Linked DNA regions of Homo sapiens. The protein of the gene in region 2 interacts with the protein of the main gene of each other region in a pairwise test. Each region holds a gene or a part of one and is shown on either strand. Other genes may lie near its edges. The genes, in order: NPBWR2, KRTAP10-7, ING5 and TCEA2.

Evidence for each region.
Region 1: the proteins of KRTAP10-7 (region 2) and NPBWR2 interact in binary tests that used the Homo sapiens proteins (3 or more experiments, as listed by UniProt).
Region 3: the proteins of KRTAP10-7 (region 2) and ING5 interact in binary tests that used the Homo sapiens proteins (3 or more experiments, as listed by UniProt).
Region 4: the proteins of KRTAP10-7 (region 2) and TCEA2 interact in binary tests that used the Homo sapiens proteins (3 or more experiments, as listed by UniProt).

What each region holds. Positions count from the first base shown.
Region 1 is NC_000020.11:64,104,552-64,111,687, reverse strand, and holds the start of NPBWR2 (neuropeptides B/W receptor type 2), read left to right. Parts: upstream 1-4,122; 5' UTR 4,123-4,324; intron 4,325-4,765; 5' UTR 4,766-4,856; coding exon 4,857-5,858; 3' UTR 5,859-7,136. UniProt on the Homo sapiens protein: Interacts specifically with a number of opioid ligands. Receptor for neuropeptides B and W, which may be involved in neuroendocrine system regulation, food intake and the organization of other signals.
Region 2 is NC_000021.9:44,595,948-44,602,694, reverse strand, and holds KRTAP10-7 (keratin-associated protein 10-7), read right to left. Parts: upstream 2,099-6,747; 5' UTR 2,074-2,098; coding exon 961-2,073; 3' UTR 521-960; downstream 1-520. UniProt on the Homo sapiens protein: In the hair cortex, hair keratin intermediate filaments are embedded in an interfilamentous matrix, consisting of hair keratin-associated proteins (KRTAP), which are essential for the formation of a rigid and resistant hair shaft through their extensive disulfide bond cross-linking with abundant cysteine residues of hair keratins.
Region 3 is NC_000002.12:241,719,019-241,726,038, reverse strand, and holds part of ING5 (inhibitor of growth protein 5), read right to left. Parts: intron 6,557-7,020; coding exon of another isoform or gene 6,418-6,556; exon of another isoform or gene 6,064-6,417; coding exon of another isoform or gene 5,917-6,063; exon of another isoform or gene 4,232-5,916; intron 3,101-4,231; coding exon 2,965-3,100; intron 2,830-2,964; coding exon 2,768-2,829; exon of another isoform or gene 2,249-2,767; coding exon of another isoform or gene 2,248-2,248; exon of another isoform or gene 1,914-2,247; coding exon of another isoform or gene 1,913-1,913; exon of another isoform or gene 1,865-1,912; intron 1,381-1,864; exon of another isoform or gene 1,051-1,380; coding exon 1,008-1,050; 3' UTR 1-1,007. UniProt on the Homo sapiens protein: Component of the HBO1 complex, which specifically mediates acetylation of histone H3 at 'Lys-14' (H3K14ac) and, to a lower extent, acetylation of histone H4. Component of the MOZ/MORF complex which has a histone H3 acetyltransferase activity.
Region 4 is NC_000020.11:64,058,256-64,066,199, reverse strand, and holds the start of TCEA2 (transcription elongation factor A protein 2), read right to left. Parts: upstream 3,003-7,944; 5' UTR 2,888-3,002; coding exon 2,816-2,887; exon of another isoform or gene 1,848-2,815; intron 1-1,847. UniProt on the Homo sapiens protein: Necessary for efficient RNA polymerase II transcription elongation past template-encoded arresting sites.

The DNA.
Region 1 (7,136 bases), on a different chromosome or scaffold from region 2:
ACCTCCCACTCTGAGGGAAACTGGCCCTGAATTACTTATCTCTTTCGAGAGAGCTAAGCTGCCCAATTACCTGCTTAGAGAACACCAGGCCTGGAACTCTCGCTGGTCTTTTTTTTTTCCTTGTGACAGGGCCCCACTCCGTCACCCAGGCTGGAGTGCAGTGGCACGATCTCGGCTCACTGCAGTCTTGACCTCCTGGGCTCAAGCGATTCTCCCACCTCAGCCTTTCAAGCAGCTGGGACTATAGGCATGCACCACCATACCCAGCTAATGTTTGTTTTTCTGTTTTTTTTGAGACAGAGTCTCGCTCTGTCCCCCAGGCTGCAGTGCAGTGGCATGATCTCGGCTCAATGCAACCTCCGCCTCCCAGGTCCAAGAAATTTTCCTGCCTCAGCCTCCCGAGTAGCTGGGATTACAGGCACCCACCATGACGCCCGGCTAATTTTTGTATTTTTAGTACAGACGGGGTTTCGCCATGTTGGCCAGGCTGGTCTTGAACTCCTGACCTCAGGTGATCTGCCCACGTCGGCCTCCCAAAGTCCTGGGATTACAGGCGTGAGCCACCGCACCCGGCCTTTTGTATTTTTTTTGTAGAGATGAGGTTTCACCATGTTGCCTTGACTGGTCTCGAACTCCTGGGCTCAAGCAATCTGCCCACCTTGGTCTCCCAAAGTGCTGGGACTACAGGTATGAGCCACCGCCCCCGGCCCTCTCACTGGTCTTAATGGCCTAGGCCTCTTGGGAGGACTTAACCTGCAGGGCCACAGCTACAGTTGAGGCTCATCTTGGAGAGCTGATGGAGGAGAGAGAGCAGGGCAGACAGGCCTGGACTCTGGCCACAGGGCAGAATCCACCCCTCCTACCAGGGCCTGCCTGGCTGGAGATGAGATGGTCAACAAGCACACTGGAGTCTGTATGAATCTCTGGGTCTGTATGCCTGCTACACATATGCATGCCCGTGTGAAGATCCAAGTCGCAGCACGGACTGAGGGACAGGTGTCCCTGCACACAGGGGGACAGGTGGAGGGCAGCTGCCACACCTATGTGAAGCGGCAACAAGCGTGAAGCCAGCACAGCTATGTTGTGTGTTGCTCAGGCTGTCCCAGGGTCCTGGCGCTTCTCCCTGGCCCCTGCCCTAGGGGTCTCCTTCAGGTCCCTGCAAGACCCCCACACGCAGCCCCACAAAATGCTCAGATGCACACTGACTGGCACCCATCACTCCCTCACCCCACACCCCAGACAGAGGATGTGCCATGTCAGTGGCCTTGCTGTCAGGCCCCCACCACCGTTCTGCCCAACAGAGCTGACCACGGCTCCCTCCCTCCCTGGCCTCTCCTCTCTTCACCCAAAGGGCCTCACAGGTTCATTTGAAAAGGCCAATTTATTTCTGAAAATGGAAACCATTTCCACAGAACGATGCTCTCACAAGCTCACAGCTGGCTGGAACAATGCCCAGCCCACGAACAGAGCAAAGGGCCTTTCTGAGCCCTGAGTGCTGGGGGTACAGACGGGGGAGCACCCCCGGCTCAGGCCCTGGTGTTGCAGCGGGCATCGGTGAGGTGCTTCTGGGAGGAGGAAAAGGCCCCTGGGGCTGCTGCTTTTGTGGCCAGGAGGACCTGACACCTCCAGCCGGCCTCCCCGGGGTCCTGAGCTCAGCACCTGGCAGTCTCCCCCATCCCCACTGCCCTCAGGGTCCCCATCCCTTCCATCATGCGCACCCCACCTCCAATGTGACCGGCGGGCGGTGGTGCCAGACCAGCCTTCAGGACAGGCTCAGGAGAGCAGAGCTAGAGTCTGGGAGGGGCTCCGATTCCCAGACTCACCAGATACCGGTGGAGGGAAGAGGACCCAGACTCGTGGTTGGCTTCAGAGGAAGCCAGACACACAGTGGGATCTTTGCATGGGAAGATTCTGTGCTCTGAGGGATGCCTCTGACACTGGGCTCCCCACTACTGAGGCTTAAGGGAAGACCCTCCTGGAACACCCTGCTCTGAAGAAGGTGTGGGTGGCAGTCGGTATCCTGCAGGGCAAAGACCAGCAGGGGTGCCCAGAGCTCAGGCCACACGGGGGTCACTGGGCAGGCTGCCAGCCAGCCCTGGGGGGCAGAGGAAGGCACCGGCACTAGCCTGGGCCCCTCCCAAAATGCATGGAAGGGAGAGGCCCCCAGCAATGCCCCCAGGGAGGCCCAGAGTCAGGCAGTGTGGCCAGCCCCACCCCAGGACAGCAGCTCGGTGACAGCAGGCCCCCAGGGAGGCCCAGAATCAGGCCAGCGTGGCCAGCCCCACCCCAGGACAGCAGCTCGGTGACAGCAGGCCTGGGACATTCTCCCAGTGCCCGGTGCTGAGGCCATGGTCGGCCGCTCCCCAGCCAAGACCAGTGACCGCCTGGCCCAGCCCACACCCTGGTCAATGCCTGGGCCACCACATGCCAGGCCTGGCCTCTCTGTGTCACGCCTCTGGTTTCCAGGAGCTGTGAACTGACCCCTCCCGACCCCACGAACACCCCAAATCACAAAATTCAGCCCCAATGCACCCTCTCCTCACGGCTGCTAATCACCATCCCCTGACCTTGTGGGCGTCAAGCTCCACTTATGTGACAAACTGTGGCTACAAGCCCCACGCTCCCTCGAGACACACCCACAGATCCCCCCCACCGCCATCCCCAAACTGGCTGAAGAGGAGTGTGAGATATCTCAGCAGGGTTCCCTGACCCCGGACTCAACATCCACATGGCACAGCCCATAGAAGGGTAGCTCGGGGCCCACCCACAGTGTACCCTCAGGCTGGCGACATCAGGGTACTCAGGGCGACTGCCCAGGCTCCTGTCCTAACCAATAGACTTGACAGAGCAACTCTCAGGAAAGAAGGCCGACCATGAGTGTGCGGTGACATCCTTGCAACCCCACAGGCAGCGGGCACAGTCTCGATGGGCAGACACATCTCCCCAGACTGAAAACACACAGTGACCAGGCACGGTGGGTCATGGCTATAACCTGAGCACTTTGGGAGGCTGAGGTAGAGGCTGAAGCTCAGGAGATCGAGACCAGCCTGGGCAACATGGTGAAACCCCGTCTCTACAAAAAAAAACACAAAAATTAGCCAGGCATGGTGGCACATGCCTGTAGTCCCAGCTACTTGAGAGGCTGAGGTGGGAGGATCACCTGAGCCCAGGGAGGTCAGGGCTGCAGTGAGCCATGATAGTGCCACTGCACCCCAGCCTGGGTGACAGGGCAAGACCCTGTCTCAAAAAAGAAGAAAGGAAAGAAAACACAGACCCTCTGACCCAACACGTCTCCGCTGAGGAGCGGCTCTGAGACTGGCGACTGCTCGTGTCAGCTGTGGCGTTGCCTGCAAAGCAGGTCCAGATGCGGCCGAGCTGCACACACACGGGTTGGATAAGCCAGGGTGCGTCCAGCAAGGAAGAAAAGCAGGGAGAAGGGAAGGACTTAAAGACCAACCCAGAGCAGAGTGTGATGCTCACCACCTCTGCAGGACGGCGGGAGAGTTACGTGTCAGCGTGAGAACGTCTTCTCTGCAGCCTTTCACAGCTTGCCTAGGCTGAGTTCCTCTTTTAGCAAAAGACAAAAAAAGAAGGTGGGTTGCCTATGGCCAACAAGTTCTGCTTCCACATGAGGGCATACAGACCCCCCAGATGCCCACACTCAGCCAAGGACATGTAGACCCACTCAGATACAACGCAGAGCTCACCCACAGAGACCCCCATACAGGCAGACACAGGCCCACACACGTACATGTCCTAACTGGCACACACACACAGGAACACACCATGTACACACACAGGGTGGGGCAGGAGACCCACCAAGACACCCATGTTCACAGATAAGGGTGCCCAGGCCCACAGTGACTCCCGGACAGAGGCACAGATGCCTTCAGTGCCCTCTGCCCGAAGACCTGGGCACACCCAGAGGCCCCTGCATGGAGTCCCTTCCTGACACACAGGCGCACACGTGCCTCAGCCGCCCACTGAGGAGTCTGCCTGGGTAAGTGAATGCTGAGGAGACCCTGGGACAGCCGACTGCAGGCGCTACTGCAGCTCAGGGGAAGGTGGGGCCTGCCTTCCGGGCTCCACGTCAGCAAGGGGGATCCGCCTCCCTCCCTCACCAGCATCAGCACTGACACCAGGCTGGGAACCTCGCAGCCGGGGCTGAGGCAGCCAGCAGGGCAGGTCTTGAAACTCCTGAAACCTCAGCTGGAGGTCTGTCAGTGAGGACCACACCTCGCCCTCCATCCCTGCGACTGCCTGTACTGGCCAAAACCAGGAACACACCAAGGCTACCAACTTCTGGACTCGAAGCACTGGACAGGTCAGTGGAGAGAAGAGTAGCTGGACCAGCAGGGTCTGCAGCATCTCTCGGGAGGGTGTGAGGGAGGGTGCAGACTCCAAGACCCCTGAGGGAAGGACCTTCAGATTCAAGGGAGCCAGAGATGAGCTTGGGAGGTGTGTTTCCAAAGGGACCGCTTGATTCTACGCAGCCCGTGCATCTGCGGGTTGCTGGGGCAGGGACGGATCCACATCTCTTCCCAGGAGGGTGGCCAGCAGCTGCTCTCTGCGGGAGGAGGGAACTGATCTGCTGAAGTCTCACCAGGAAGAGGCGGGAGGAGGCCCCCACACACCCCACCAGGCTCCCTCTGGCCCCATGTCCTTGACCTGGCAAAGTGGCCGCAGTCTCTGCCAGAGAACCTGGAGTGGCTGTGCCCTAACAGACGGCCGGATCTCAAAGTCTCTGGTTGTTTTTCTTTCCTAGAATCCAGCCCAAGGAGGCCCCCAACCAGATACCCAACTCCAAGGCACCTCCCACCTGCCCAGGGCGCAAATCGTCAACGGTCCCAGCTACAATGCAGGCCGCTGGGCACCCAGAGCCCCTTGACAGCAGGGGCTCCTTCTCCCTCCCCACGATGGGTGCCAACGTCTCTCAGGACAATGGCACTGGCCACAATGCCACCTTCTCCGAGCCACTGCCGTTCCTCTATGTGCTCCTGCCCGCCGTGTACTCCGGGATCTGTGCTGTGGGGCTGACTGGCAACACGGCCGTCATCCTTGTAATCCTAAGGGCGCCCAAGATGAAGACGGTGACCAACGTGTTCATCCTGAACCTGGCCGTCGCCGACGGGCTCTTCACGCTGGTACTGCCCGTCAACATCGCGGAGCACCTGCTGCAGTACTGGCCCTTCGGGGAGCTGCTCTGCAAGCTGGTGCTGGCCGTCGACCACTACAACATCTTCTCCAGCATCTACTTCCTAGCCGTGATGAGCGTGGACCGATACCTGGTGGTGCTGGCCACCGTGAGGTCCCGCCACATGCCCTGGCGCACCTACCGGGGGGCGAAGGTCGCCAGCCTGTGTGTCTGGCTGGGCGTCACGGTCCTGGTTCTGCCCTTCTTCTCTTTCGCTGGCGTCTACAGCAACGAGCTGCAGGTCCCAAGCTGTGGGCTGAGCTTCCCGTGGCCCGAGCAGGTCTGGTTCAAGGCCAGCCGTGTCTACACGTTGGTCCTGGGCTTCGTGCTGCCCGTGTGCACCATCTGTGTGCTCTACACAGACCTCCTGCGCAGGCTGCGGGCCGTGCGGCTCCGCTCTGGAGCCAAGGCTCTAGGCAAGGCCAGGCGGAAGGTGACCGTCCTGGTCCTCGTCGTGCTGGCCGTGTGCCTCCTCTGCTGGACGCCCTTCCACCTGGCCTCTGTCGTGGCCCTGACCACGGACCTGCCCCAGACCCCACTGGTCATCAGTATGTCCTACGTCATCACCAGCCTCAGCTACGCCAACTCGTGCCTGAACCCCTTCCTCTACGCCTTTCTAGATGACAACTTCCGGAAGAACTTCCGCAGCATATTGCGGTGCTGAAGGGCCTGGGCACCATCACCCCCATCATCATGCCCATCATCACCCCCCATCATCATCACGCCCATCATCATCATGCCCACACCCCCATCAGGCCCACCCCCCCCCACCCCCACCACCACCCCCACCATCACCCCCACCACCACCCCCATCATCACGCCCATCATCATGCCCACCCCCATCACATCCACCATCACGCCCACCCCCATCACCCCCACCCCCACCATCACGCCCACCATCACCCCCACCCCCACCCCCACCCCCATCATCACGCCCACCCCCCCCACCACCCCCACCATCACCCCCATCATCACGCCCACCCCCACCCAGTTCCGGCTGTCTCTTTCAGGGGACGCCCGGCCTGTTCACATCCCAGTGCTGTCCTCTCCACGCAAGGAGACACAGACCCTCACACGCTGGCCACCAGACCTACAGACAGCCGTGGGCATATACCTCCCATGTCTCTGCTTCCTGGACAGCCCCTGGGTGGACAGCAGCAGGGATCCAGGTCCTGGCAGAGGCCCCCACACAGCAAGCATCCCGGGCCCACTTACCCACGAGAGACAGACAGATGGACAAGCCCCTTGGAAGGCTCTGGGACTCAGGATCCCTAATGACAGTGGTCGGGAGGGGAGGGAACCTGAACTGTGATCTTGACCTGGGCCACGTTACATAGTCTCTCCCCAAGATGGGGCCGGGGGGTGGTAAGTGCGGGCACCTCAGGCAGCAGCGATGCTGTGTTGCTGCAAAGGCGGACACCTGCACCGCATGAGACCCAGAAATCCACTCTCGTGGCCTGAAGCCCAAGTGGAGTTCCAGCAGGAGGCCCAGCCCCGCCGTGCCCATGTGCCATGGCCTGTGCTGCTGTGTTCCCCCTGCTGTGGCCGACGGTCCTTGCCATGGCCTGTACCCGCCCTGCTGTGTCCGACAGTCCTCTCCATGGCCTGTGCTCCCCTGTGCCCCCCTGCTGTGTCCGACGGTCCTCTCCATGGCCTGTGCTCCCCTGTACCCCCCTGCTGTGGCCGACAGTCCTCACCATGGCCTGTGCTCCCCTGTGCCCCCCTGCTGTGGCCGACAGTCCTCACCATGGCCTGTGCTCCCCTATACTCCCCTGCTGTGGCCGACGGTCCTCTCCATGGCCTGTGCTCCCCTGTACCCCCCTGCTGTGTCTGACGGTCCTCTCCATGGCCTGTGCTCCCCTATACTCCCCTGCTGTGGCCGACGGTCCTCTCCATGGCCTGTGCTCCCCTGCTGTGGCCGACAGTCCTCACCATGGCCTGT
Region 2 (6,747 bases):
GGGACTGGTCACGTGAGCAGCTTCTGCCTGGGCTACGCCAGAATTCCAGACTCCCAGCAGGGATGTGGGTGTTCGGCCTAAACCACATGGTACAAACAGCTCAGGCCCAGTGAGGCGGGGCCGGGGGGAGCCCCTCGGAAATCCCAGTTCCCAGACGCCAGCCAAGGGCCAGCCCGGCCAGCGGGCCTCAGGATGGCCGTCCCCGCCCACCGTGTGGACCCATTCTGCACACGGCCATGGGGTTTCCTTTCTGGAGCCAGGGGCTGGACACAACCCAGTTTCTGGGGAGGCCCCAAAGCAGCCCCACCCAGGGCAGGCGCTGCTGTTGGATCCCTCACCTCTCCCATCCCTCAGTCCTGCCTACCCCTCGGACATCCGTGTGGTGAGGCTGGTGCAGGGCTGCCAGGACGCCTGGGAAGGACAGGGACCTCGTGGCGTGGGAGCAGCCCAGGACCACCCGCGGGTGGGGGGCATCAGGCAGGGGTCTTTGGTTGTGAACAACAAGAATGAATTCCAGTTGTACTTTTTAGGAAAGGAGTTTATTAGAAGGGTCTGACCTGCTCCCGTGGTCAGGGAAGACAGAGAAAGAGGCCCAGGCCCACAGCAGGGGAGGAGCAGGGCTCGCCACTGAGCTGGGACAGTGACGAGAAACCCAGTTGGTACCTGTCTACCCTCATTTCTCCCCACACCGGGCTATGGCCTGGGAGCACCCGCTGGCCTTGCTGGGGTCACTGCCCACCTGTTGCTGGGGAAGCAGGGCTGGGTAATTGGGGGAAAGTCAAGACTTGGAGAAACAGCTGAGCTGCTTCTAGGAGGAGAAGCGCACACTGGATGGCCAGCTGACCACTGACGTCCACTGCAGGGCTTAGGAGCGGGATGTGGAGAGCCGTCAAGGGTAAAGAATCCAGGGGTGCAGGTGGCAGTGAGCACTCAGGCTTTGGATGATCTTAAGGAGATCACTCAGCAGCTGGACTTCTGGGTTGAGGTGGGGCCACAGCAGGCCGGGCGGGAGCATGCGGGGCGGCAAAGGAGAGACACACAGGAGGCTGGGCGGCAGCAGCTGGCCTGGCAGGAGGAGGTGGGGGCGCAGCAGGAGGGGACGGGCACGCAGCAGGCGGGCCTGCACACGGGGCGGCAGAGGAGGGACACGGAGGAGGAGGGTCTGCAGCAGGAGGTGGTGCAGCAAGCCGGCTGGCAGCTAGACTGCTGGCAGCATGAAGTGGAAGCCCCAGAGCAGACGGGCACACAGCACACAGGCTTACAGCAGACGGGCACGCAGCAGCCCTGCTGGCTTTGGGAGGAGGTGCAGCAAGCTGGCTGGCAGCATGAACCGGAATCATCAGAGCAGGTGGGCACACAGCAGACGGGCTTGCAGCAGACAGGCACACAGCAGGCCTGCTGGCAAGGGGAGGAGGTGCAGCAAGCCGGCTTGCAGCTAGACTGCTGGCAGCACGAGGGCGTGCAGGAGCTGATGCAGCCTGATTGGCAGGGGCTGGGCTCACAGACCGCCTGGCAGCAGGGACTGGACACACAGCTCACACAGCTAGACTGCTGGCAGCACGAAGAGGAAATCCCAGAGCAGACAGGCTTGCAGCAGATGGGCACACAGCAGGCCTGCTGGCAGGGGGAGGAGGTGCAGCAAGCTGACTGGCAGCTAGACTGCTGGCAGCATGAAGAATCCCCACTGCAGACAGGCACACAGTACACAGGCTTGCAGCAGACAGTCTTGCAGCAGACGGGCACGCAGCAGGCCTGCTGGCAGGGGGAGGAGGCACAGCAAGCCAGCTGGCAGCTAGACTGCTGGCAGCACGAGGGCGTGCAGGAGCTGGTGCAGCCTGATTGGCAGGGGCTGGGCTCACAGGTCACTCGGCAGCAGGGGCTGGACACATAGCTCACTGGGGTGCAGACCAGGCTCAGGCAGGGGGCCGGGGCGCAGCAGGGGGGCTCGCAGCAGCTCTCTGGGCAGTCGTCCACCTGCCAGGAGTCGGAGCAAGAGTCACAGGAACCAGGAAGGCAGACGCGGCTGCCGTAGCTCAGGTCGCTGGAGCAGACAGACATAGTGGACGCAGCCATGCTGGGGATTGAACTGGAGGAGATGGGAGTGAGTGGGTGAGTGAGTGAATGAGTGAGTGAGTCCGTGTGTTAGGTGCTCAGGGATGTTGGCTTTTATATGTCTCCCTGGTCTGTTGTCCCAGCTGGAGTGTCAACAACTCCTGCCCCTTCCTTGTTTGTGTTTAAAACCTAGAGAACGCTTATTAGTGCGAGTTTCATGTTTAGTCCTATGAGATGCCGTTCAGTTTGTAAAGTCCTGAGTCTATATTTGGTTCCGTTGACGCACCCTCACCTACCTTTGGCTCCAGAGCATAATATTGAAGTAGACAGGGTGTAATGTCTGCAAATAGAGTGTCCCAGGGGCCTGTGCTGGCTGCAGGAGAGATCCATCCATCCTAATCCCAGCGCCTGTGGGCCATCGCCAGGGGACTCTGCTTGTCTGGGTGGCTGTGGCTTCTGGAATGCCAGGCTAGAGAAGCCCCTGTCAATGATGGCATGAGGGTGGAACATTCCTAGAAGTGACTCCCCACACTCTCTCTGGTGCATAAAGTCCCCCCAAGGGCTTTAGAGCAAGTGGCAAACGGGAAAGGGTGGACAGTGGTGTGAGCCATTTCCCGTCAGGTTCACAGTAGTTCCTGGGGGGCCGTGCACCCCCTCTTCCATCTGGGCACTTAGGGAGGCCCCAGATCCCTGTTTGGGGCCCCCATTTCCATTTGGTTTTATCCCAAGCACTGCAAACCTGTAAGTCTAACCCAGAACACCTCCTCCGCAAAAAGCACAGCCACTCTCAACAGCACTGCCGTGTGAAAAGCAGCAAGCACTGCTTTCGCTTGCAGTGTGTTTTCTTGATTGCCAGCTAAGTCCTTGGTCACCCCAGCTAGACATCTGATCTAAGTCTCCATTTCTTCTGCAAATAATATCCAATTGGCCACCACATCTTTTTGGTTGTTTCTGCTAAATGTTTCCAATTGTATCCGATACTTTTACTTCTCAAGCATTCATTTATTCATGATGCAGTGAGTCCTCCCACATGCTGGAAATTGCACCAGGTGCTGAGAATGTGAAAGTGAAGGGGTAGTAACCCTGACTGTGGACCCCACCAGGGAGGGAGGTGGGCTGCTTGGTGCCTGGTGATGTCAGTGATGACCAGCCATAGCCCAGCATGCATGCGGCCCTGAGAAGTGGCCCCTACCCAGGGGAGAGGGCTCCAGGGGCCCTTCTGGTGGGGTTTGATGCCCAGGCAAGTCTCAGAGGCTCAGGGTGTCCTGTGTCTCTATCTGTGTTTCCCAGTCCAGGCCTCTTAACTCCTAGGGGATTTAGGAAAAGTACAAAAGGCCTCAGAGGGCTAGAAATTCAGTTACACGGTGGGATGAATTGTCTTTCTGTATATTTTGAACTATAAAAATAATATAAATTTGAGCATGGCCTGGTCCCTCCAGAGGTACAGGATCTGGTCCTATGGGATGGAAGGAGAGAGAGAGAGAGAGAGAGAGAGAGAGAGAGAGAGAAAATGGGGGCCTCTGCTTCCATATGGGACAAAGTAGCTATGTCAGACATATACTCCTGCTGAGAACAACTTGAAAAGCTGAACAAAATGTTTTAAAAATGATTCCTTTAAAGCTCTCCTAAAAGAGCTGTTGAAGAAACTAAAGGTAATAGAATGACATCTTTAAAGAGCTGAAAGAAAATCACTGCAAACCTAGAATTCTAGACCAGGAAGAACATTGTTCAAAGGTGAAATATGAAACAAAACAATTCTGGATAACAACTGAGCAAACTGAACACGAGCAGACCTACTCTACAGTAACTATGAAAGGGGATTTTTTTAGGCAGGATGACGGAAGGATAAAAATGCAGGAAGGAACCAGGAGGATCTGAAAGGGTAATATTATTATATTTATAATCTCTTGTGGGGTCTAAACTAGAAGTAGAAAAGTAATGCATGATGACATTAACAATAAAAGGTGAGAAGGATAAATGGAGTGAAAGTTTTCTAAGGTTTCAGCATTGTTTTGGAAGCGGCGGAAGTGCTGACATATGTTACACTTGAATAATCTAAGAATGTGTGCTATAATCTCTAAAGTGACCACGGAAGAGATAGTAAAAACTATGTATAATCAATGTATAATCAATAATGTTAGAAATAAGGCTCAGAGTCGTAAGGAAAAACGAGCACTGAGACAAAGGATTTCTCAGCAAAGCAAATGTATGTCTGTGCAGGAGGGTGTCTCCCATATGGCTGGTTGCCACGAGAGCACACAGAACAAAGGAGAGTAGAAGTTTTTATTCCTAACGTGATCCTGCCCCTGTGTCCTTTCCCCATTGGCTGGGATTGCGCCGCACAATTTAAACTAGACCCGATTGGCTAAACATTTAAACTTTCTTAGATAAAATGGATGCATAATGGGAGAGACGGGAGAGGAGGAAGGGGTCATCTACGGGAAACTAGAGAGCCAGTCTTTTCCTAAATACAGAACGGAATGCGAGCTGGTGCTGATAATGCTAGTGATGTTGCGGCATGCCTGGGCATGTAGTAAAGTCAGAAAGAAGAAAAGGAGAAGAAAGAGAGGGGGCGGGGGTACTAGGAATTAAAGAACAAAAGGTTGAGCAGCCTGTTTGAAGAGAAGCCTTGCCTTATCTCACGAATAATGAATAGAACAGAAGAGGGAAAATAAATAATAAAAAATACTTGATTAATCCAAAATAGACAGGAAGTGATTTTTAAAAGAAACGTTAAAAAATTGGGACAAATAGAAATTGTACAGTCAGATGGCAGATAGATATAAACTAAATCATCAGTCAATAAAGTATCAGATATTCCAATTAAAATATATTGTTGGTCTGAATAAAAAGTAGAAAACCTAACTACATGCTGCTTACAAGATACAGAGCCTGAATACAAGAGCATAGAGGCCATGTGCTGTGGCTCGCACCTGTAATCCCAGCACTGTGGGAGGCTGGGGCAGGCAGATCACCTGAGGTCAGGAGTTTGAGACCAGCCTGGCCAACGTGGTAAAGCCCTGTCTCTACTAAAAATACAAAATTAGCCGGGCATGGTGGTGGGCACCTGTAATCTCAGCTACTTGGGAGGCTGAGGCAGGAGAATCGCTTGAACCCAGGAGGTGGAAGTTGCAGTGAGCCGAGATCGCACCACTGCCCTCCAGCCTGGGCGACAAGAGTGAGACTCCATCAAAAAAAAAAAAAAGAAAAGAAAGAAAGAAAAAGAAAAAGAGCACAGAAAGCTTGAAAGTAACAAGATGGAAGAAAATACACCACACAAACACTAACTAAAATGCTAGTGTGACTTATGAATATCAGAAAAAGTAGATTTTAGAGCAATAGAGATGAAGAAAGAAATGTATAAAGCTAAAAGAGTCAACCTACCAGGAAGATGTAACAATTCTAAATCTGCATGTATCTAATTACATAGCTTAAAATATAAAATTAAAAAATTAAAATAAAAAACTGTTTTTTAATTTTTTTAACTGGCAGAGCTAAAAGTAGAAATAGAGAAAAGGGAAAATCATAGTGGGGGATGTTAATACACCTGTCAATAATGATAGGAAGGGAAAGAAAAATCATCTCAGAGTGGAAAGGGCTATTCTAAGTTTTGAGTAAAACACCGAAGCCATTTAAAAAACCGATAAAACTAATTATGTAAAAATTTTTAAATTGCAGGAGAGAAAACATTATAAACCAAGTCAAAAGACAACAATATGGGAAACACATTTCCTATCTGTATATCAGAGAAAGGGCTAATTTGCTTAATATCCAAAGAGCTCCCACGAGTTATTAAGATCAATAACAGAAACATAACAGAAAGTGAGCAAAGGATACAGAGACAATTGAAAGAAATATACATGGTTCTTAAATGAGAAAACGTGCTCAGCCCCATTTAAAATGAGATAAAACAAATTTAATGGCCATATGATATCATTTTTTATATTGGAAAAAATGAAAACCATTGATGTTCCCAACATGGGTTGGCGAGGGTGTGGGCAGACTACCCAGATGACTTGCTGCTGGGCTGAGGTTGCTCCACGGCTTTGGCAGGCAGTTTGCTGCTACACATCACAATTCAAAACCTCATGCCTTTAAGCCTGAATCACTAAGCAAGCATCCTGTAGATACTCCTGGGTGGATACAAGGTATGTGCAAAGGTATCACAGCCATGACATTGTCCAGACAGCGGGAGACAGACTCTAGGGTGGCCCCATGTCCCTCACCTCCTAGTGGTCACTGGCTGTGTGCCCCACACTCCTTGAGTGTGGTTGGGACTGTGACACGTGTATAGACACAAGGAGCCACAGAGAGGGTGATGGGATGTGCATGATCCCATTACATAAGGTCATAATGCTCGTCTCGGGAGGACTCTGTCTCCCTGGCTAGCTGTGAAAAAGCCAGCACATTGCGAGCTGCCCGTTGAGGCCGCATGGAAAGAGATGATGGCAGCCTCCAGTTGACAGCTGGTGACAAACTGAGGCACTTAGTCCAAGAAGCTACAAGGAACTGAGTTCTGCCAACAATCACATGAGCTTGGAAGTGGATCCTTCTCCAATTGAACCTTCCCATGAGACACTCCAATACAGCCCTACAGAGACCCCAATTTAACTGTGCCTGGACTCCTGACCCACAGAAACCGAGATGATAAATGTGTGTTATTTGAAGCCACTAAGCTTGTGGTACTTTGTTCCA
Region 3 (7,020 bases), on a different chromosome or scaffold from region 2:
GCTCAGCTTGGTGAACGCTCATTAAACAAAAAGCACACTCGAGTTTCCTAGCTTCATTCCAGAACTGCTATTGTGGCACAACAAATTCACAACAAATTCACATCGGAGTCCCCTCGACCGGGAGCTGCGGGCCTGGGAATGCACAGCACAGGCAGAAGCATTCGTGGTTCGTCAGCTCCTGGCAGACGGGACTCACTTCACGGACACACAGACCCACGATCTTCATGCTATTAGGGTAATTTCATCTTCACAGTAAAAAATCACCAATTCCCAGAGAAACGGAGCATCAGCCCAGCTGTCGCACAGGGTCTCGCGGGTGCTGGTCACGGGACCTGCGGCCACTCCAAGCTAATGAAGAGCCGTTTACTCCGGAGGTGAGTCCCCGAGGGAGGACTGAAGTCCAAGCTAAAAAGGCGGCGCCAGCGAAGCGGAGGCCGCTTCCTCCAGGGAAGAGCCCCCAGCCCTCCCGGGCCCATCCGAGGCGCCCCACGCGGGAGCGCACGGTGGCCGGAGGCGGCGCGGAGCCGAGTGTGAGGAGGGCAGCCGCCGCCACGGCAGTGGCCCCACGCGCGCCTCGGTGGCAGGTGCTCCAGCGGGCGGGGCACGCGGAGCCCGGGCTGTACCGGACAGTCCTGGAAAACCACAGGAAAGCTACGCGAGGGTGGCGGCCGCCCTCCGTGGACCAGGTTACCATGTCCCCGCCCGCACGCCCGGCCGGGCAGCCCGAGCTCACGCGCGCCCGCCCACGTCCGCCGGGGTCCCTGCTGATGCTCGGGGGGAGTCCTGTAAAAGCCACACTGAGGTCGCGGCGGCGAGTCCCTGCAAGGTCGCCCTTCTGTGCGAACAGGCTTTGGTGGTTCTTGTTCTAGGAAACATCCAGCGCTTCAACTGGCCACGGAGTTACTAAGTATCAACCGAACAAGGTAGTTTTAAAAGGAAGGGAAATATTGCGACACGAATGAAGGGACAGATTAACTTGCTCCTCGGATCCGGGCACACAGCTCCTCCTACTTCTTCTTCCTCTTTTCCTGGACACACCGTGGACAGAACCTGTGACAAGAAAGGCGCAGTGAGGCCCTGGGCGCCATTTCCGCCAGCGCGCAGGGTGCCCAGGGCCCGCCTCCCCATGTCTCCCAGGGCTGCTGGACGCCGGCAGGAGGGCACCAGGAGAGGCACACGCAGTGGGGCCGCGGCCCTCCCGCAGGGAAAATGCGCCGATGCACGTGCGGCTCTATGCAGGACGCCGGTTCTGAAGCTGACAGATACACCATCAATGAGCAAAACCGATTTGACACCCAGGCGTTCCTCCTTAACAGGTGGGTCCTTCTTCCCCGGCCGATGGCAGGGTCGCTGGTGCCCTCTGTCTGCAGTCTGTGGGGGCTGCAGGTACCAAGCACGCGTTGAGAGCATGGCAGCCCCTCAGGCCCACGGAAACCCAGCCAGGCACCCTGCACTGGCCCTGGAAGCTGCCGTCTCACAAGTGCTCCCTGGTGACTCTGAGCAAGTTCTGGAGCTGCACGCACAAGGGGCTCCTGAACAGAGGCAGCTGCTGACCACAGAGGACATTCCATAGGTTCCCCACGCAGGAGGCAGCCGACTCGCATGACGGCAACCGTCAACCACCGCCTGGCCCAGGCCCAAGCCTGCCCAGGGCCCTCCGCCCTAACAGCCTCCGTACCCCTTCTCAAAACCCTCGGTGCACCATCCCCCAGCCGCACGGCGTGGGGCACCACAGTGCCATGTGTCCCTGTGACAGGACAGCCTGTGTTGACGCCACATGACACCGTGAGCTCGGCCAGCCTCCGAGACACGGCATCCTTTCCCTGTGTCCTCACACCGAACACCAAGGATAACTGGCTCTTACCAACTCGGGCGAGTCTGCCGGAGTTTCAAACACGCTGCCACGATGACCTCTGAGTGCCACACAGAAGAGCACATTCCGATTTCATTTTCAGAACATAGATATCCATTTTTAGATTTTCAGCACAGGCAAACAAAGCCAGGTTTTTATCTTTTTATTTATTTATTTGAGACAGGGTCTTGCTCTCTCGCCCAGGCTGGAGTGCAGTGGCGCGATCTCAGCTCACTGAAGCCTCGGACTTCCAGGCTCAAGCCATCCTCCCGCCTCCGCCTCCCAGGTAGTTGGGACCACAGGCACGCACCACCACGCCCAGCTAATTTTTGTATTTTTTGTAGAGTTGGGGTCTCCCGATGTTGCCCAGACTACAGGTTTTTATTTAAATGAAATCTGAGGAACAACAATGCAGAAAGTTGCCATTGCCAAGGGGATGCAAGGGTCAGGTAGAGAAAACACACCCTTCTCCACTAGACAGAGCCAGGGGCAGAGCCCCAGATCCATGCCCCGGCTTCAGGGCTCACATCTCATGCTATATTTCCCAAATTTCCCTAGGGGACAAGAACCTCTCATTTCTGATTTAAGACGATCCCTACCTCCCAGAGTCCGGAAGGTTGTCCTTCAGGAGGGGCCATTAACGTGAATATCACGTAACCTGGTAACCACCATTCCTGGGTGACGGCATCCCTCTGCCAGCTCGGACAGGCACAGCAGCAAAGGGGGGATAAAGCCACACCCAGAGCAGCCACCAGCCAGCCACACTCCTTGAGGCCACAGTGGGGCATGCCTACGTGGCTACCGTGTCCCGCTAAGCCCGGCAAGATTCTGCCATGGAGCACCTTCTCCTGGGGAGGCCAGCAGCGCAACACCCAGCAGACTGGGAGAAAACAGAGCGAGCGTCCCCACACTCACCATTTTCCTTTGGGTTTCGTGGTAAGGTCCACGCAGGCAAAGTGAAACCACTCAATTGGACACTGCAAAGTAAAGGGAGAAACCGCAGTCAACACGCCTCATGTTCTGTATGCAAAACACAAGAAATGCCAACATCCGCCAGCCCTGCCCCACACAAGACCCCGCCCCATGGCGCGAATCCTGCAGGCGACACTCACGTCTGGATTGTCACAGCCAATCATCTCCCCATAGGAGACCTGGTGGCACAGGCAGTACGTGGGTTCGTTTGGGTCCACGGGCATGTCCAGCACATCAGAGGGGTGCACGGACAGGATGGTGTCAGTGAACTCAGACCTGCAGGGGACAGGGCACAGGCACCACTGAAGGCCATGGTGGGAAGTGAGGCGGCACGGACACCACGGGCCCTTCTGTCTCTGACTTAAGGCCCCCTCACCCCAAAACTGTGAAGACAATCATTCCAAGGGGGAAATTGGTACCGTGCTCTGAGCGACACATAATGAATAAGCTTGCTTCCATTTTTCCCATTGTCCTTTAGAAATGAATGCGACTCCAGGGCCAGCCACTGCAGTCATGCACTAACTGAATACACACCTTGTGGACGTTTTCTTCCTGGAGCACACATTTTCAAAACCTCAATAACCCCTCTGAACACGCAATGTTCTAAGAAGGCGCAGCAAGAAAATCATTAAGTATACGAACAGATTGTCAGCTGATGCTAGAAAGAACAGTTACCCACAAAAATCCAGGAACAGCAGCAGCTGGCAGCAGAGGGGTGGAGACCTCGCGCCCACCTTCGGGCCCAGGCAGGGGCATGGGGGCACAGAGGGCCCCCAGGAGGCCGTGAAGCGCAGCACTCACCCACAGCACCGGGGTTCTGGTCCCACTCTGGGGACGAGTCCACTCTCATCTCGGTCCCTCCTCCCAGACAGGACTCCCCCGGGGACCTCTGGACTCAACCCACTTCTGGGCCATCCCTCCAAAGACCCCGGCCCCTTTGGAAACAAGCACACGTCACCTCTGCCAGCAGACGGCTGACACCTGAGAGAAGCCTGCCAGCCTCCCACTCCAGACTGACAGGTGTCAGAGCAGCCCGCACAGTCAACAGCTCTCCCGTAACTGTGACCTCCTCCCAAGAGAACAGCCATGCGTCCTGCGCCCGGGCCCTCCACGCACCTACTCAGGCACCTCTGCCCCAATACTGACTCAACCAGCAGCTCCCCACACACTCCCTGGACCGCCCACCACCCACCCAGCTGTCCACCTGGCACAGGGCCCCTTCCGACCACACACCATCCTTGTCACTCCTTCATCCCCATCAGCTCCCACGTGGGTTTCTACACAGCAGCCTGGCAGGTGTTCCACCCCGTCTATGCCTCCCTCCAAGCCTGCCACCTGTAGCACCATGGCCGTCCCACCAGGACCACAGACCTCAGGTGGAGACTTTCCTGTTTGAAAGGGATGCACTTAGGGGGAAATTTACGCTTTTATATTTCAGTATTTTTCAAATAAACTTACAAGCTGCAGGTACTATAGACAGTGTATTCCCATTAGTACAGAAAGAAAAAGTATCTTCCCTATCCCACCCTCCAACCCACGAATATCTAGTTGGTATGTAAACACAGCAGGTTAGCAGGAGGAACGTGGCCGTGAGAAAAACAGTCACGATCAGGGAAAGCCAAGGAGCAGAAGTCTGGGTCCCAGAGGGAATCAACACTCAGCTTTTCCTTGGATACCTGTCTAAAGCTTTTCTACGCCTTTGCAATTGCCTGTACACATACACACACACTCGGGCTCAGCATGCACCCGGCCTCCCCGCTGCCCTCTGGCACAGGGGCGCCCACCTAAGTCTGTCCTTTGCAGGTAATCTGCTCTTCTGCTCTTTCTCTCTGTCTGGGAATAGACAGGGGTTTCTCTTTAGAGCTGAAATCCATCAGCGTCACAAGTCCAGGTCCAGGTGCTGCCGACACTGCTTTCAAGCAACAGTCTCAAGTAGTCTTCGGGTCTCTCCTCTGACAGCAGCACGCAAGGGTCTACGTCTCAGCCTCCTGCCGATTCCGGGATGCCACCTGTGGCTTCACCTCCAAGGGGCTCCTGCGGTCTCCTCGAGTCACCTCTCACCCGCGGAGAGCAGGGCAGCACCCTCTGCTGCCAACCGTCCCCGAAACGCTGACGCCCTCCTCTTCTGCGCCGAGTCCAATTCTGTCCACAAAGCCCGACCTGACATCTTGAGCTGCCACTTGACCTGTGTCTCAGCATCACCAGGTTCGAGGGCGCTGGCCAGATTTGATGGCTGTGGGAGAGGGCCGGGGGCCTGAGGGGACCGCCCAGCAAGGGCACCCCAGAAGCTGAGGCCACCGTGCAGGCCTCACTGGCCTCTCAGTCTCGCCTGAGGGAGCGCCATGGCGTGTGGCCAGGGAGTGCTGCTATCAGCCCTGAGGGAGGCAACCAGGAGGCCATGGGGAGCCCTGTCCCTTGCACAGGCCAGGGTGACCCCAACTGTCAGCGGCTGCTGACTCCCTTCAGCACCACTGCCACAAGAGGCACCCTCTGTGCTAACTCCCCAGGGTGTGGCAGGCACCCCTCGCCAGACGGTGCCAGCGAGCCCTTCCGCGCCCGGCCCCGATGGCTTCCCAGCACTCCACGTGGCTCCTAGCAGGGGGCTGGCTGCCTGTCCAAGCCCCGGGATTCCAGGTGCTACAGGTGACACTGCCCTTCATCCACACACACAGGTTCTGCCTCGCCAGAGCAAGGCCACAGGGCAGCAACAGTGCAGGGGGCAGCCTCAGGTCACGGGATCTCAGACGAGACACGGAGCATCTGTGCAGTCTAGGAACACTGCATTCCAGGAAGAGCCCCGGGCACGTGGGGAACAGGCCTGAAGAGGGCAGTCCACAGGGACAGGATGGTGCGTGCGCCTGGGTCCCCAGCAGGGAACAGGACCTGCCTTGAGGCAGAGCGGCCTGGCACCACAGCGTGACCACGAGGGGCGTGAATACCCACTGTGCTGATGGGTCAGGGACGCGCACCACAGAACTCCAGAGCCCAGGGGCAGGCGGGCTCCTGCACACACCCAGGATGATGCCCTTGGAGGCACCCGAGTGCACACTCCCGCCCCGGCAGGCCAGGCTTTGGGTCCAACCGACTGGTCCTCAGGATGACCCGTCTGCCCACCTGCACCATCCTCCTGTCCCTCTGGAAGGGGCCTCCTTGGCGCCTTGGACGTCAGAGCCCAGCTTCAGAGCTGGCCTTACCAGCCTGTCTCGACGTCTTGCAATGGGACAGGAGCAGCACTGCCACTTGGGGGCACAGAGAAGAAAGAGATTCACACACAAGCTAGATCCAGAGCCGCAGGGCCCCGCAACTGTCGCCATCGGTGATCACCCTTCTCATCTGTCACTACTGGGACCTGCACGGCAGGCAGCGCTGAGCTCCCAGGCTCCGCATTGCTACTAAACAGTGCTGGTCAGCGCACTGTCAGGACAGGAAAAGCCATGAGGCCACAGTGGATCTTCCTGTGTTTGCAGAGGTGCTGGCTGTTCCTGAGGTCTCTGAAGCTGGGCAGAGCCCTCAGGGAGGAAGCCCCGACCCCAACAGGGAGCTGGAGTCTCCTTCACCCCCACGAGGACCCCCAGTGCCTGCATTCCTTATGCCTAGCATACCCTTGAGAAACAGCACTGGGTGAGGAAGAGACCAGGAGGAGTCCCACTTTCACGCAGAAAAGGCACGGTCGGGACAGGGCCTTCAGGTTCCGAGCAGGAAGGAGCAGGAAGACTCAGAACGCTGTTGCCACTGAGTTAGAAAACACAAAACCCAGCAAGTCACAAAAACCACATTCTCAAAGATGTCGGGGAGCTGTGGAGCAACAAGAGCTAGATGACCTGCAGCCAGAGTGGGGGGTGTTGGGGGGTTGGGGGCGGCGTCCGCCTGCCTCATGCACTGAGTGAGGGCTGGGCTGGCCACTGGGCCACGCTGAGCCCACACAGCCACACATGGCGGCCGCGTCCCCACCGACATTTATAGTCCAGAGGCTGCACAGAGCAACTAAAAGCAGAGGGAAAATCCCTGCAACCTCGGAGTTCTCGAGCAAGGGGTCTGCTCGGGCACCGCTGGTCTCCTCCCCCGCACTTCTACCAACTGTGGAAGCCGCTGGGGCAGGAGGCGAGAGAGGAAACCTCAAGGTCCTCAAGGGGCCTCGGTGGAGCTGAAGCTGAGACCCTGCCCCGCCCCAGGCCCCCAGCCCTATTGGCCTGGAC
Region 4 (7,944 bases), on a different chromosome or scaffold from region 2:
ACTGACTTCGTTGTAACCACCTCAGGTCACTGACCCAAACCAGAACAGAAATGCCAGCTCCCCTGGCCAATCATGAGGCTTCAGAGCCACGGCCCCTCCCCAGCAGCCAGGGCCACACCCAGGTGAAACTGCAGCCCCAGGTTCATTCACTCCCCTGTGTCTTGATGCCCTGATGCGCAGGGCAGCCTCTCCCCAAAGCACCCCCCGCCCACCAGCTGTGAAGGGCCAACCCAGGAACATCAGTGTCCCGAGCTGAGGCCAAACTCTCATGAAGGGCCAACCCGGGAACATCAGTGTCCCGAGCTGAGGCCAAACTTTCAAGGGTCCCTCCACTCCAGGCACGGCCACAGCCAACACCTACAAGGCCCACAGCCCCCCTCCTCATCTATCCTCCAGGCCTCTGAGTTGCCCCCAAGCAGGCCAGCACCCCTCGCCTGGACTGTTCCAATGCACCTCGTTCTCTCCGCCTTGTCTCCCCACCCAAGATCTGCGTTTCCTCCAGGTCCTCAACACTGACGAGGCCAGGCACAAACCGGTCACATTTCCACACCAGGCCCGGCAACTCAGTGCTCCCCAAGGGCGCTGAGCCGCCACCGAGGCCCTCTGCACCTGCAGCTCCACCGCCTGGGGCGGCCTCCCACAACGTCTCCCTCCCTCCCTCCCTCCCTCCCGGGCTTTATTTCAACAACACCTTCTCAGCAAGGCCTCTCCTGTTTAAAACTGCAACTGTGCCCTGCAACACCCCATCTCCTCTGTAACACGTGCATGTGTTTCCACGTGTGTATCATTCCCTCTGCCCTAAGGTGACCTGATCAGAGTCCCACGACCCACAGGCCATGGGAGGGGCTTGTCCCACCTACCGCCCGCACAACCCCAGCAATCCGGGTGGCATAGTCTGCTCACGCTGCAGCCCCTCCTGAGCCCTCCCAGGCAGGCCCTGCCTCTTGGGCTGTACAGAGTCCAGCCTTGAGGTGATAGCCAGAGCCAAGGCCACTGTCCCCTGAAAGCCCTGCACCTGCTTACGTGGCTCTCAGTGGGCTCAGGTCCAGAGGCAAAAAAACCCCCACACCTGGCCCCCAGGTCCCCGAGGGGACCTCAGGCACTGGGACCCCCAGGAGGCTCTGCTGGCTCCCACTCCCCACTGCACAGCGCCCGCCTCCCCTCCTCATTCTCCCCTGGGGCTTCTACTCAAGCTGTTCTTCCACCAGAAACCCCCCATCAGTTCTGCCCAGCCCCACCCAGCCCTCCCCTGGCTCCATGACCCATCTTTGCTTCTCCCACCTACAGCTTTTATCGTTTGTGTTTTGTCTCCTTTAAGAAGGGGAACAACTCCATTCTCGGGTCATCTCTGGAAACAGCTATGAATGGTTCGCAGACCCCTACTTTGTGCTGACCAGTTTTCCGGGGTGTGTGTGAACGCAATGATGGGGGTGCTGCACCCAGCAGGAATGAGTGGGAGCCCACCCCTTCCCAGGGCAGACCCCAGTCCAGAACGCTGGTCACAGGAACCCAGACTCAACCCTGCTCAGCCCAAAAAGCTTCCCCCAAACCCCCACTGCAGTCACACAGCCCTGGGGTGGCTGCACAAATCACCCAAAGCCCATGACTCAGCCACCTTCACCGCCCTGGGCTGGCCTGGCAGACACACAGCTGGCCCTGCCCCAGGAGTTCACAGTCTGGGTGGGAAAGCACAGGTCACGTTTATTGAGCCAGCCAGGAGCTCCAAATGACCTGCGGCCAGACCCCTCCCCACCCCCCAGGAGGCAGGCAGCATCCTCTAAAGATGCTTCTGTGGGAGGGTGCAGAGGTTGCCAAGGTCATGACGCTGGAACTGGACCCCCACTGACCTGGCCCCTTCAAAGTCCTCACACACAGCCTCCTCCAAAGTCTCGCTGTGGCCGCAAGACAACAGAGGCCCAGGCCGCAGTGAACAGAGCCGGCCAGAGGCTCCAGCGCCCAGACACTCCCAGAGGAGGCTTGCCCGACCTCCTGGCTCTTATATAAGCACACCGGCTCTTTTCGGAGGGTGTCCACATAACTACCCACAACCCAAGTTGCTGCGGGCTAAGTCCTGGCTAAAGAAGGGAGAGAATTTATTAGAGAAACCTGGTTCTTGTGGGGTGGGGACAGACAGGGAAGAAAATGGGCCCACAGGCAAGACAGGTATCTGGCTGGCCTGTGAAGGAGGATGACAAGGGCTGGGAAGAGGCAGGGGAGGCACGGAAGCTCCAGAAGAAAAGGGGATCCAACCTCAGACTCCAAACTGTTGCCGGCGACAAATGCTATGGGAGACGGAGGGTGACAAACGCTGTAAGAGACGGAGCGTGGGAGAGGGCTGAGTTGGGGGGCGGGGCTCGGCCTGTGAGGATGCCCAGGCCGGGATGGAGGAAGGCAAGGGGCTGGCGCGGCCCGCAGAGGAGGCCCGAACACCCCGGGGGCTCCGAGAGGCGGGACAGGGCCAAGGAAGGAGTCGACGGGCCAGGCTGGGGGTCTGGAGTTAAGGGACAGGGAAGGGTGCGGAGCCTGTGACTGCGGGCGAGGGAGGGGTCTGAGTCCAGAGCGGGTGGCTCTCCCGGGACAAGGTCCAGGCCTGATCGCGGCCTCTGCCGGGGTTGCGGGAGTGAACGGCAGGGCTGGCCCGGGGCAGGGGTCTCGGCCACGGGTGGGGGTCTCCCCTGCGTCCCGGTTAGTCTCTGCCGGGGAGGGGTCTCGTCCTGCCCCTCAGGTCGTCTTCCGGCCCTAACGGGGGTCGGCGGGCTCGACGGGGTCTCGGCGGGGCGGGGTTCCCGGGGTCCTGGCGGCCCGCGCCCCTCACCGCGCTCTTCTTGGTCACCATCTTGTCCAGCCTCCGGGCGATCCGCGCAATCTCCTCTTCCTTGCCCATCATCGCCTCAGGAGCAGCGACCCCCGCGCCCGTCGCGCCCGCCTCCGCAGCCGGGCAGGACCCCGGCCCCGGCCGTCGCCACCTCCCACACCCGCCGCAGCCGACGCAGCCCCGCCGCGGACGACAGACCCCCGGTTCAAACCCTCGGCCCCGCGGCCGCGCGCGGCATCCTAGGATGCGTAGTCCACGCGCCCGCCTGCCGCGCCCGCCGCGCCCGCGCTCTGGACCACAACTCCCAGGCGCCACGCGGCGCGCACAGCCTCCTGGGAAGTGTAGTCCTGACCCACCGTCGCCAGTGACTCGTGATCCCACAATACCCCGCGAGGGAGGCGCCCCGGGCACGCCCCTCCCAGAGCTCAGACATCCCGGAGCGACCGGGCCCCAGGAGGCCCAGGAATCTGCTCCCTTCTCTCCTCCTGCTTCGGGCCTTGCTGTCCCGCGGCGTCCTTCGGTGGGTGGCTCAGGACCCAGTGCCCTCAGCCCTTCTCTTGGGCCCCGCTGAGCCCTGCGCGCGCCCCACTTGGCCTAGAAGGCCGTCCCCAGCCTCCCAGAGCCCAGTTTGGGTCATTCGGGCTTCTGAGTAGAGTTACTTCTTCAAGAGGCCCGCGCACACTGGGAGGCCTCTTGTGGGGCCCTGCAGGTGTGAGCGCGCGGTAGCTGGACGTGGCGTCTGGAAGGGGCCATTGCTGGGGTTCGCGAAGTGCGGGGGCCTCTGCCGAGGCTGCGTGGGCAAGGCCCCTGCCTGCAAAGTCAGCTACCAGGGAGCAGATTCTGGGCTCTGCACGTTGACCACTGTGTCTCAGTCTCCCCACCTGTGAAACTGGAGTTAAGTGTCCGCCTCACAGGGCTCCCGTCAAGATGATGTCAGCTGATTCACATCACATGCCTGAGAACAGAGAGGGGATGGAGCATGACAATTAGTGTTCATTGACATTGTTGTTGGAGGTCCCTAGGTAGGGCCAGACTGCAGGCAGCCAGAGAGATGGCCCAGGCCTAGGGAGGGTTGAGGACGGGGACAGGTGCAGGGCCAGCATCCCCACCACTGCCTGGCAGCTCCCCAGTAATGCAGATGCTGGGTGGTTTCCTGGAGAGGGCACAATCCTGGGGGAGGGTGTGGATCAAGGAGCCTGTAGTCATTCAAGTTCAGGCCAACGAACTATGAGGCCAGGTGGCAGGTGGAATGGGCTGAGCATTTCTTGGGCTGTCTGTGGCACTAATCACATATAACTGAGCTTCCCCGCAGCCAAAATGAAAAGGAAAATATGGTCAGTTAAGAGACTCATCTTAGCCGGGCAATAGTGGCTCATGCCTGTAATCCCAGCGCTTTGGGAGGCCCAGGCGGGTGGATCACCTGAGGTCAGGAGTTCGAGACCAGCCTGGCCAATATGGTGAAACCCCGTCTCTACAAAGAATACAAAAACTAGCCAGGTGTGGTGCCGGGCACCTGTAATCTCAGCTACTTGGGAGGCTAAGGCAGGAGAATTGCTGGAACCCGGAAGGCGGAGGTTGCAGTGAGCCAAGATAGCACCATTGCACTCCAGCCCTGGCCAACAACAGCGAGACTCCGTCTCAAAAGAAAAAAAAAGAGAGAGAGAGACTCATCTTGGTTGGGCACAGTAGCTCACCCCTGTAATCCCACCACTTTGGGAGGCTGAGGTGGGCGGATTATCTGAGGTCAGGAGTTCCAGACCAGCCTGGCCAACATGGTGAAACCCTGTCTCTGCTAGAAATACAAAAATTAGACCGGGCATGGTGGCTCATGCCTGTAATCCCAGCACTTTGGGAGGCCAAGGCAGACGGATCACGAGGTCAGGAGATCGAGACCATACTGGCTAACACGGTGAAACCCCATCTCTACTAAAAATACAAAAAATTAGCCGGGCGTGGTGGCGGACGCCTGTAGTCCCAGCTACTCCGCAGGCTGAGGCAGAAGAATGGCATGAACCCAGGAGGCGGAGCTTGCAGTGAGCGGCGATCATGCCACTGCACTCCAGCCTGGGCAACAGAGCAAGACTCCATCTCAAAAACAAACAACAACAAAAAAAAAATTAGCCGGGCGTGGTGGCACATGCCTGTAATCCCAGCTACTTGTGAGGCTGAGGCAGGAGAATCACTTGAACCCAGGAGGCGGAGGTTGCAGTGAGCCCAGATTGTGCCACTGCACTCCAGCCTGGGTGACAGAGTGAGACTGTCTCCAAAAAAAAAAAAAAAAAAAAAAAGACTCAGGCTGGGCGCGGTGGCTCATGCTTGTAATCCTAGCACTTTGGGAGGTGGACTGCCTGAGCTCAGGAGTTTGAGACCAGCCTGGGCAACAGGGTGAAACCCCGTCTCTACTAAAATACAAAAAAACAAAAAAAAATTAGCCGGGCATGGCGGCATGCGCCTGTAGTCCCAACTACTCAGGAGGCTGAGGCAGGAGAATCGCTTGAATCCGGGAGGCGGAGCTGGCAGTGAGCCGAGATCATGCCACTGCACTCCAGCCTGGCAACAGAGTGAGACTCGTCGCAAAAAAAAAAAGCTCAATCATAGGGAAAAAGCATAGAATTCCTTGTGAGGAGCAAAGCCTTTCTAAGACAGAGGCCCCGCGATATTATATTATTATTATTATTAATAGATGAACACGGTTTCCATACTGACTGATTCTGCCCCTCACAGTGAGCTGGGGACATAGCTTCCAGCCTAGACCATCCAAGCAAGTCCTCGTGGTCAGAATCCCATGGTTTGGGCATATATGAAGACTTGAAGGGTCCAGCCTCATCAGAGGCACGAGGGGAGGCTAGAGCCACCCAGCCTTCAACCACTGTCTCAATGGCTGACAGCCAGACCAAGGAGCTGGTCAGGGTCCTGTAGAAGCCACACTGGAACTGCCCTTGTGCAGGAACCCCAGAAAGTTTGGCTTCGGAGGTCCGGGCGGCCAGGGTTTCAAAGCTGGTTCCCACCGTCCACAAAGACACTGGCCACATCCATGGAGCCTGCCTGGCCAGACACATAGGCTTCTCCAACGGCCGAGTGTGAGTTGATTTGAAGACCACCGAAAGGAAGCCAGCCCTCAAGCTGGGGGTGGGGGGGAGACCTCCAAGTATCAGGACTGCAGATCCTGAGATGCTGGTAAGGGCTGCAGCACAGAGAGGCCCCTCCTGGGCAGGAGGTGCAGCCCAGACAGCACAGAGGAGAACTAACCCCAGAGAGCTGCAAGTTCCTAAGAGTGGAGGTGCAAAGGAGAGAGGGTCAACGTCCCAGAAGCATCAAGGAGCTGCCAGAGGAGGCTGTGCAGTTGTGCATACGCCGCAGTCCCAGTTGAAGTGTTGGTGGGGCGGGGTCTGGGGTATCAGCACGGACCTCTGGAGCAAGTCACTATCAAGGAGCCAGCAGTGAGGCCGCTCCCCACCTGATTTCTCCCTGGGATGGACAAGCGCAAGGTTCTGGGGAAGGAGTGCACACAGACGCCCCCGGAAAACCAGACTAGAGACCCAGCCTTGACCCTCCCCAGGCCGGCCCAACCAGTGGAGGGACTTTGCATGAGGGATGCTTTTAAATATCTGGTTCATCTGAATGTTTTCAGCCACAAAGATCCCCTAGCACGGTAACTCTTAAAGCATTACCTAGGGAGCTGGGAGCTGGTCGAGAACAAAGACGACTGCCCCCTTGCACTCCCCGCCCCCACCAGGGGCTGGGGCCCTGGGGTCTCTGTCCTCTGTGATACCTGTGTGCAGATCAGAAGTACAGGCCACAGGCCAGCCAGGATGGATAAGGAACAAGGGGTGCCCAGAGGAAGGGAGAGGCACAAGAAGGGCTGGGAGTTTCTTTTCAGAGGTGCAGAGAGTGTCCCAGAGTTGGGAGGGAGAGGGATGTGGTCTGGAGTGTGTATTGAAGCCTCAACAACCTTACCAAGCTGCAGGGAGGGACAGAACCCACTGCAGGACAGGGCCTATAGAGACGATGGGGTGGGACAGAGACATACTGGGCCTGGGAGCTGGTGGGGGGCGGTCGGGCAAGATGGGAGGGAACAGTGCGAGGCGTCTCAACAATCCAGGGGGTCAGAGACCCAGAGACCAAACCCCTGACAGAAAATAAACTGGTGGGAAGAAACCATCATCTCCTTTTTTTTTTTTTTTTTTTTTTGAGACAGAGTTTCACTCTTGTTGCCCAGGCTGGAGTGCAGTGGCACGATCTTGGCTCACTGCAACCTCCGCATCCCAGGTTCAAGCAATTCTCTTGTCTCAGCCTCCCAAGTAGCTGGGATTACAGGCATGCGCCACCACACCCGGCTAATATGTTTGTATTTTTAGTAGAGACGAGGTTACATCATATTGGTGAGGCTAGTCTCAAACTCCTGACCTCAGGTGATCCACCCGCCTCGGCCTCCCAAAGTGCTGGGATTACAGGTGTGAGCCACCGTGCCCGGCCCATCATCTCCTTTATACCGACCTCTAGCAGAAAGGTGTCGTTCGTTCAGTTATGAACGAGGCCATGAACCAAATCTGGTCAGCTGGGCCCGTGGCTGACCCGGCACAGATGGGAACTGCCTCGCACCCCCACACTCGCTGCTGCTGGGACTGCAGAGGCTGTTCAGTGAGTCACATCTTGTTCAGCAGATTGGTAAAGAAGCACTTGGGTTTTGATATCACACTTTAAGAAAATATTTGCATAACTGTGTGTTGGTAGAACTGGCTGCCTTTATGACCCCGTGAATTCCACCTTGTGCTCTGTGTAGGAGGGGCCTCAACTAGGACTCCAGGAACTGGGACTCGGCCCTTGCTGAGCCTGAGTGGAGGTCCCACTCTGGGCCCTGTTTCCTCCTCCATGAGATGCCAGGTGGTCTTCTACGTCCTGGGGCCCTGGGCATGGCCACACAAGACAGAGCTCGTGAGGAGCCTGACATGTCTCAGTGGGTCCCAGTGGAGGCCCACAGAGGCTGCAGACGGGGAGGTCAAGATGCTGTGGCGTCTTAAGGACAACGGCTGGCAGGTCGGGGATCCCTCAGGAAGGGGTGTCAGCCGTGGGCCCAGCCTACGGGGCTGCATTAGGGCACGTGGGGAGCCTGGTCGGACAGGTGTGGA